Linked DNA regions of Homo sapiens. The protein of the gene in region 2 purifies or fractionates together with the protein of the main gene of each other region. This does not show direct contact. Each region holds a gene or a part of one and is shown on either strand. Other genes may lie near its edges.

The links.
Region 1: the proteins of ZNF202 (region 2) and ZMYM2 purify together in Homo sapiens (co-immunoprecipitation; 3 studies listed by BioGRID and IntAct, with this or other methods). This does not show direct contact.

The regions. Positions count from the first base shown.
Region 1 is NC_000013.11:19,965,227-19,968,726, forward strand, and holds part of ZMYM2 (zinc finger MYM-type protein 2), read left to right. Parts: coding exon of another isoform or gene 1-55; intron 56-3,062; exon of another isoform or gene 3,063-3,176; intron 3,177-3,500. UniProt on the Homo sapiens protein: Involved in the negative regulation of transcription.
Region 2 is NC_000011.10:123,734,953-123,738,984, forward strand, and holds part of ZNF202 (zinc finger protein 202), read right to left. Parts: intron 1-4,032. UniProt on the Homo sapiens protein: Transcriptional repressor that binds to elements found predominantly in genes that participate in lipid metabolism.

The DNA.
Region 1 (3,500 bases), on a different chromosome or scaffold from region 2:
TGTGTATATTACTCTCTGCCGTAGTCACCTGGATACCATCTCTGGACTTACTAGTGTAAGAATTGACAACTAAATTTTTGGGTTTTGTTACTTAACATTAAAAAATGACTTCTCTTCTAATACTGGAACAGTTTTATAATCATTCATTTCAAAGAGGTATGTCTTTTTCCTAGGAAGAATAGTGTTTCTTGGAATATCAAGTTGGACTAGACAGAGTGTTCAGGGTAATAATCAGGGGACTGATTTAACAAATTGGATATTACAACACCTGTTATATATTAGATAGTCATAAAATATGTGTTCTGTTAATTATGGGCTAGCAGTTTCTTTGGCTCTGCTTGGAAGAGCATTTCATCTAGACTTAGTGAATTGTGTTTCTAGTTCTATAGAACTAAGGAAAGGTTTGGGTGGAAGTGAAAATATAAGTTAAATGAAAATTTTATTTTATCCTCCTGTTTAGATTTGTACTTTTTTTCGTTCCAGGCTTGTCATATCTTATTTTAATCATTTTAATTATTTCTGGCCCTGATATGGTATCTGAATTCTTTTTTTTTTTTTTTTTTTTGAGACGGAGTCTTGCTGTGTTGCCTAGACCAGAGTGCAATGGCATGATCTCAGCTCACTGCAACCTCCGCCTCCTGGGTTCAACTTGAAGCAATTCTCCTGCCTCAGCCTCCTGTGTAGCTGGGATTACAAGTGTGCACCACCACACCTGGCTAATTTTTGTATTTTTAATAGAGACAGGGTTTCACCGTGTTGGCCAGCTGGTTTTGAACTCCTGAACTCAGGTGATCCACCTGCCTGGGCCTCCCAAAGTGCTGGGATTACAGGTGTGAGCCACCGCACCAGGCCTGAATTCTTATATATTTATAATTCTATATTTGCTTGTTTTTTTTTTTGTTTTTGTTTTGTTTTGTTTTGTTTTGAGACAGAGTTTCTCTCTTGTTGCCCAGGCTGGAGTGCAATGGTGCAATCTCGGCTCAACGCAACCTCCGCCTCCCGGGTTCAAGTGATTCTCCTGCCTCAGCCTCCTGAGTAGCTTGGATTGCAGGCATGAGCCGCCACGCCTGGCTAATTTTGTATTTTTAGTAGAGATGGGGTTTCTACATGTTGGTGAGGCTGGTCTTGAACTCCCGACCTCAGGTTATCTACCTGCCTAAGCCTCCCAAAGTGCTGGGATTACAGATGTGAACCACTGCACCAGGCCTGAATTCTTATATGTCTATAATTCTTTTTTTTTTTTTGGATACAGAGTTTTGCTCTTGTTGCCTAGGTTGGAGTGCAATGGTGTGATCAGGGCTCACCGCAGCCCCTACCTCCTGGTTTCAAGCGTTTCTCCTGCGTAGCTGGGATTACAGGCATGTGCCACCACGCCGGGCTGATTTTGTATTTTTAGTATAGACGGGGTTTCTCCATGTTGGTCAGCCTGGTCTTGAACTCCTGACCTCAGGTGATCTGCCTGCCTTGGCCTCCCAAAGTGCTGGGATTATGGTCGTGAGCCACCGCGCCCAGCCTGCTTGTTTTTTTACCTAAAGAAAAATTTGCACTTGTTTTAATTAGTTATAGGAAAATCATGATTATAAAATTTAACAAGTTTTAGCTTTATAACTTTACTATGAATATTGTCTCACTTTATTTTGATTTTTGTCTGTCTTATTATTGTATAGTCCTGTTTCTTAGCCAAATAAGTGTTAACTCCTGCCTAGGAAGTCATTCCATCCTATGTCTCTGTACGGTTTTACATTGCTTATGGAAGAGAAGCTTCTGTTCCAGTTAGTCTCTCTTCCATGACACAGACTCCTGACTTCTGTTATTTCATGTTTTCTTTATTTGTATATCACATTTTCCTTTTTCAAGGACCTTACTCTTCTGTTTTCATTCAGTCTTCCTCCTGGACTTACCTGTTCATTTGTCTTTCCTTTTCCTAACTCCTTTTGCTTTTTTTAAAAAAAGAGCACAGTATCTGTAATAGCATCCTATATAAAAGTCTGATTATACTGTCCTTTTAGGGGGTATGTTTCCAAATTACAGTAAACTCGTGAATTTGGTGAGATCATGATATGTGAGTATGGTTCTAGAGATATATGAGGGCCTCACATGGAAAGGGAACTAGTGAGTACTAAGAGAAGATTGGAAGGGTAACGACTTAATTTTGCAGATTTTCTGCCAAAAAAAGCCATTTTTCTCATTGTAGCATGACATGAGTTGGAGTCATACAGATTCAGGCTTAAATCTGCCCTGCTCATGAAGGGAGTTTTGGGGTGATAGAGTGTTATATAAAACTGGATTGTGGTGATTGTTGCAGAAGTATATACATTTAATACATTTATCAAATCTTTCACTTAAAATAAGTAAATTTTACTACACGTACATTATGCTTTAATATAACTATTAAAAACAATTTTGCTCCAGTATTTACCAGTTTGCGATATCAGGCAAGTCATGTAACATCTGAGCTGTAGTTCAGTCAGTTAACAAATGAGTATGGTAATGCCTGGTTTCCTGAGATTGTTGAGGTGAGGACTAAAAATAATACAGGGTATGCAGCTGGCCAATAGTAGGTGCTCAGTTAATAGCAGCTGCAATTCTTAAACTGTCTGTTTATATGGACCAAACATAATGAATTTGCTGCCACCACCTGGTATGGTAAACTTAGTGTGTGCTTATCTGGTAATGACTAGAAGAATTTCTATGTTTCTCTTCACCGACTTCCCTCTTCTGGCTTTTTCATTAGTCTGCAGTGCTTTATCCTCCATCGAGATAAAAATGCTTTATCCTCCAGAATCTCTGCATCTTTTTCTAACGATTTCTTCTTTTCCCTATACTTTTAGAAAGAAATCCACTGTCTGATCTGCACTGTCAACACTATAACAAATCTCTTCTGAGGTCGCTAGTGACCTAATTGCCAAATCTTTTAACTGCTTCTTTTTGTCTTAATTCTGTAACATTTAAAATTTTTGCTTCTGGGGCTTAATGTGGTCTCATAGTTATGACCACCTCCTTCACTTCCCCTCGCTAGACTTTCCTTTTTTTGAGCCAGAGTTTTGCTCTTCTTGCTCAAGCTGGAGCGCAATGGTGTGATCTCGGTCCACTGCAACCTCCGCCTCCCGGGTTCAAGCGATTCTCCTGCCTCAACCTCCCGAGTAGCTGGGACTACAGGTGCACTGGGATTACAGGTGCGCGCCACTGTCCCTGGCTAATTTTTTTGTATTTTTAGTAGAAATGGGGTTTAACCATGTTAGCTAGGCTGGTCTCGAACTCCTGACCTCAGGTGATCTGCCCACCTTGGCCTCCCAAAGTGCTGGGATTACAGGCGTGAGCCACCGCACCAGACCTCCCCTCACTAGACTAATGTTGAGACCTTTAAGTGTCCTTTACTGTCATCTTTAGCTCTTACTATGCTTTTAACTTTCACCTTAGTCTGTTAGAAAACGGAATTATTTACAAGGCAGTTTCTTCCTATTCTTGACTCCATTGTAGCCAGATTAATTTTTCCTAAA
Region 2 (4,032 bases):
CAAGGAATCTTCAGGTTGCACCGGGAATAATCCAAATGCAAGTCACACAACACTTGGCATTTGAAAAAAAAAAAATCATTTTCCATTGAGGATTTAAATCAATTTTAATAAGCGCAAAATCAGACATCAAATAAATGGAACTACAATACTAATTATTTATCCAGACAAAGCTTTCCAAACCCCACCCCAACTCCTACCCCTGGAAGACAGAATTAATACATAGGGTCTTTTGGCTTAATAAAAGGACTTCTAGTATCTTAAAAGTTTGAGAACCGACGTCCAGTGAAGTAGACTTGGAATCCTCATTGTTTTCACGCAGCACTAGGTACAAGAGATTCCACAGTATGGATCCTACAACGTATGCATTGACAGAAGAGTTCCTGCTCTCTCAAAGGGCTTTGCTCTCCAAAGAAAAAAGAACATGTAACAGTGCCACACCAAACTTGCCATTTAAAAATGCCCTTCAGAAATCACAAGCTGAGATTTCTGGTGCTTGTTTTGCATTTACTTTGGCAGCCTAGGAAGATGAAGGAAAACAGATCAGCAATAGAAGGAATGAAGGAAGGAGTCTTTGTGGGGTAAGAGATGGGAAATGAATAGGAGGTACAGCAGTGCTGTGCACAGCACCAAACTGGGTATCCAAAGACATATGCCCCGGCCCCAGATCCCCAAGAAACTGGAGCTTCCCTGAGGGTTTCGTGAAGTAACGTACCCAAGAGCCCTTGTAAAGGATAAAGCCCTCTGCAGATAACCAGTCTCCTAACTCAGTGATTATCTGAGATATGAGAGCTTTATGAACTAAAATGTGTTGTGCAAATGTCAAGATTTAATATTAGAGGCAGAAAACAGATGTTGTGTTTTTATTCTATAATTAATGGGATGTGCTATGCCATAAGTATACCTTGCAATTTGTTGCCTTTGCTATTCTAATACCTTTCTTCAATGTCTGTCCTTGGAAGAGTTCCAGAGTAAGACAAAAACTATAGAGAGAATACAATAGAGAGAATATGAAACCAGGCCAGGATTAAGTAAGAGACTTGGTTCCAGAAGACACTAAAACAGTATCTGCAAAGATACAACCTAGTGTCTTGAGTGTTCCTAGGATGCATAGGATTGGAGAGGAGCTATCAAGGTAAGACCTCTGTACAATCCTCAGGCCAGCTGTCTCTGCCCCTTATCTGAAGGTGTCACGTGGCAGTGAAGACCCAAGCTCAATTCTCTTACAAGAACAGAAAACCACAGGCAATGAAACAATATCTAGTTCTCTACCTTAAAACGCTACTAGCTAGGGTGATCTTTCTGGACCCTAAATGACAAAGTCTGTAGTCATATACCATCAACCTAAAGGAGAGACAGTGATCTGCCTATGTACTGGCAAATAATCTTCAGAAGAAAATAGTGATTAGAACTGAAATTATTATATTTAGCAGATATTTATATCCCTTCCAGTCCCCATTCTTATTTTATACCTTAATGCAGGCCTATAGTTTGGTAATTTTAATACAACTACTTGCTGGGGCTAACCAGGGCCTGTCAACAGCTCCTCTCAGTGTTCTAGAATAGAAATTGGCTAATAAAAACTGTTAACCGCTCTTTTCCAATGCTGCTGCTGTTCTTTAAAACGAAAGATTAGCCCAGTACAATCCTTCTAATGGACATATTCTTTTATTCTTGATTGTCCTATATACAAGCGCTTACCTAAGCTTTCCACATAATGGTTAGTGGCCTTGGCACGCTGGGTTTGAATCCCTGACCTCGAATCCCTGACCTCGCTTATTAGCCTTGTAACACAATTTCCCTAAGCCTCAGTCTTATCCTCAAAAATGTGGCTAATACTACTTATCTCATGTGGTTGTTTTAAGGAGTAAATGAAATAACCTATAGAAACCCTTCAGTATAGAGTCTGGCATAGGGTAGGTGCTCAATATATTTTATTCATTTTCCTTCAAGCTATTTGAAATCGTTTTGGGAAGAAGGCAAGATTTAAATGATAAACAAGCAAACAGTTCTCTATTGCATCATAATTACAAAAAAACAGATGGCATAAGGAAAATCTTGGTCGGTCTATTGTTATATCAAAGAAACCATGCTAAACCAAAAAAAAAATCCTTGCTTTGGAGGCACTTATGAAGTAGGATTAAATGAAAGTGTTGGAATACAGATGAGAAGGAACCTTAGACACAGGTTCTCCCACCGAAGACCATATCAGCAATGCTTCTAATTACCAATATATCAAAGTCCTCTCCACTCCCTGTAACTGGCAGGAGACAATCTGAGGCAAACTCAGTGTACCAAGAAGTCCTGTGAAAACTTAACCTAGACAGCACAATGAATGAAAGGGAATGAATTCCCTGGCTTTTGGCCTTCTAACACGTGACCAGTATGCTTCAAAACATGTTTAAAACTGTTTCTGTAAAATATTTTTGCCACCTAAGTTTCCCCCCCGCCCCTTCATAAAAGTGATATTTGAGTAGTGAGGGGAGAAATGGCTCAAAATTTGTTACAAGAGGTTCCAAAGAAAGACAATAAGGTATAGAGAAAGGGAAGACAGGAAGAAAGAGAAAGAGGTCAAGTATGTAGTGGATAGTACAGGGAAGTCACAAGTATCTTCTGTCTGGAAATGCTGCAGATTTTGTGGTTAGCCTCAAGATATTAGGTGGGAATAAACATGTCATTGAGAGTAAATGTAAACACAAAAATGAAAAATAAAAATTGTAACAATTCACTTTATTCTAAACTGTTTTTGATGGTTATATATGGCAGGCCTAGGAGGCAATGTTAGACAGTAGATAGTTGCCTTCGGCGGAGGGTGACCTGTGTTCTGTCCACTGCTCTACATTGTAAAGAGGTGTCATCTTGGACAAGTCACGGCAGCTCATGTTGAGTCTTGGGATGATTCTTTATCTAAAGGTAGAGAACTGAACCAGCTTTTTGATGGTGATGAGGAGGGGTTTTGAGAGGAACAAGGATATACAGCATCTCTATTGAATATTTGGGCCATAATGTAACAGCCTAGGATGCTGAGATTTACTCAAGAGCTGAGGACGGCTAGGGGCCAAACACAGATTTTTAAGTTTTGAGATAGGGTTTACTCTGTTGCTAAGACTGGAGTGCAGTGGCAAGATCACAACTCACTGCAATCTCTGCCTCCCAGGTTCAGGCCATCCTCCCACCCCAGCCTCCTAAGTATCTGGGACTACAGCACATGCCACCATGCCCAGCTAATGTTTAAATTTTTTATAGAGAAGGGGTCTTGCCATGTTGCCCAGGCTGGTCTCAAATACCTGGGCTCAAGTGATCTGCCAGCTTTGGCCTCCCAAAGTGTTAGGATTACAGGTGTGAGCCACTGCACCCAGCCTCAAATACAGATTTTTAAGAGGCCAGATTTATACACCTGGCCATCATGGTCATGTTGGTTAACCTCCATCATGAAGCTAGGCTTTTTAACCTTCAGGAAAACTACCCCAGAGCAGTTAATGGCCTAAATAAAGGAGGTCAAGCTATATGTCTCAGTTTAAAACAGAACATGACAAATTAACCTGAAGCAGGAAAAGGAGGGGACATCAAACCTGACACCCATCCTGATAAGAGTAACTGCTCTCATTTGACAGCCAGAGTTAAACTAGATGTATGCAATCTCTACAACAAACATAGTCAATGCCAATCAGATAGTCAGAGGAACCATCATTTAATGGGAAATAACGCAATAACATATATAACAGAGCTGACCGGAGGTGTTGCTATAGATAATTCATAACAGCAGTAAATTCAAAAGTCATTTACTATGTTTTTAGCTTTGTCATTAACACAGCCTGTGTGGATACTCCCTGTTTCACGTCTAGATGACTTCCTCCTGGCTTTGCTCAAGGGTCCTTTAGCATTTGAGGAGATGATAAGGGATGGGATCCCCGCCTGTTGAACCAGAGGAATCTGAGGAGTACCAGGTTTCCACTGAAGACTAAATCATGATCCAGAGAAGGAATCTCAGAAGTCATTCTTGTCGTGGGCATGGCTTAACGTCTGTCTCCCCAC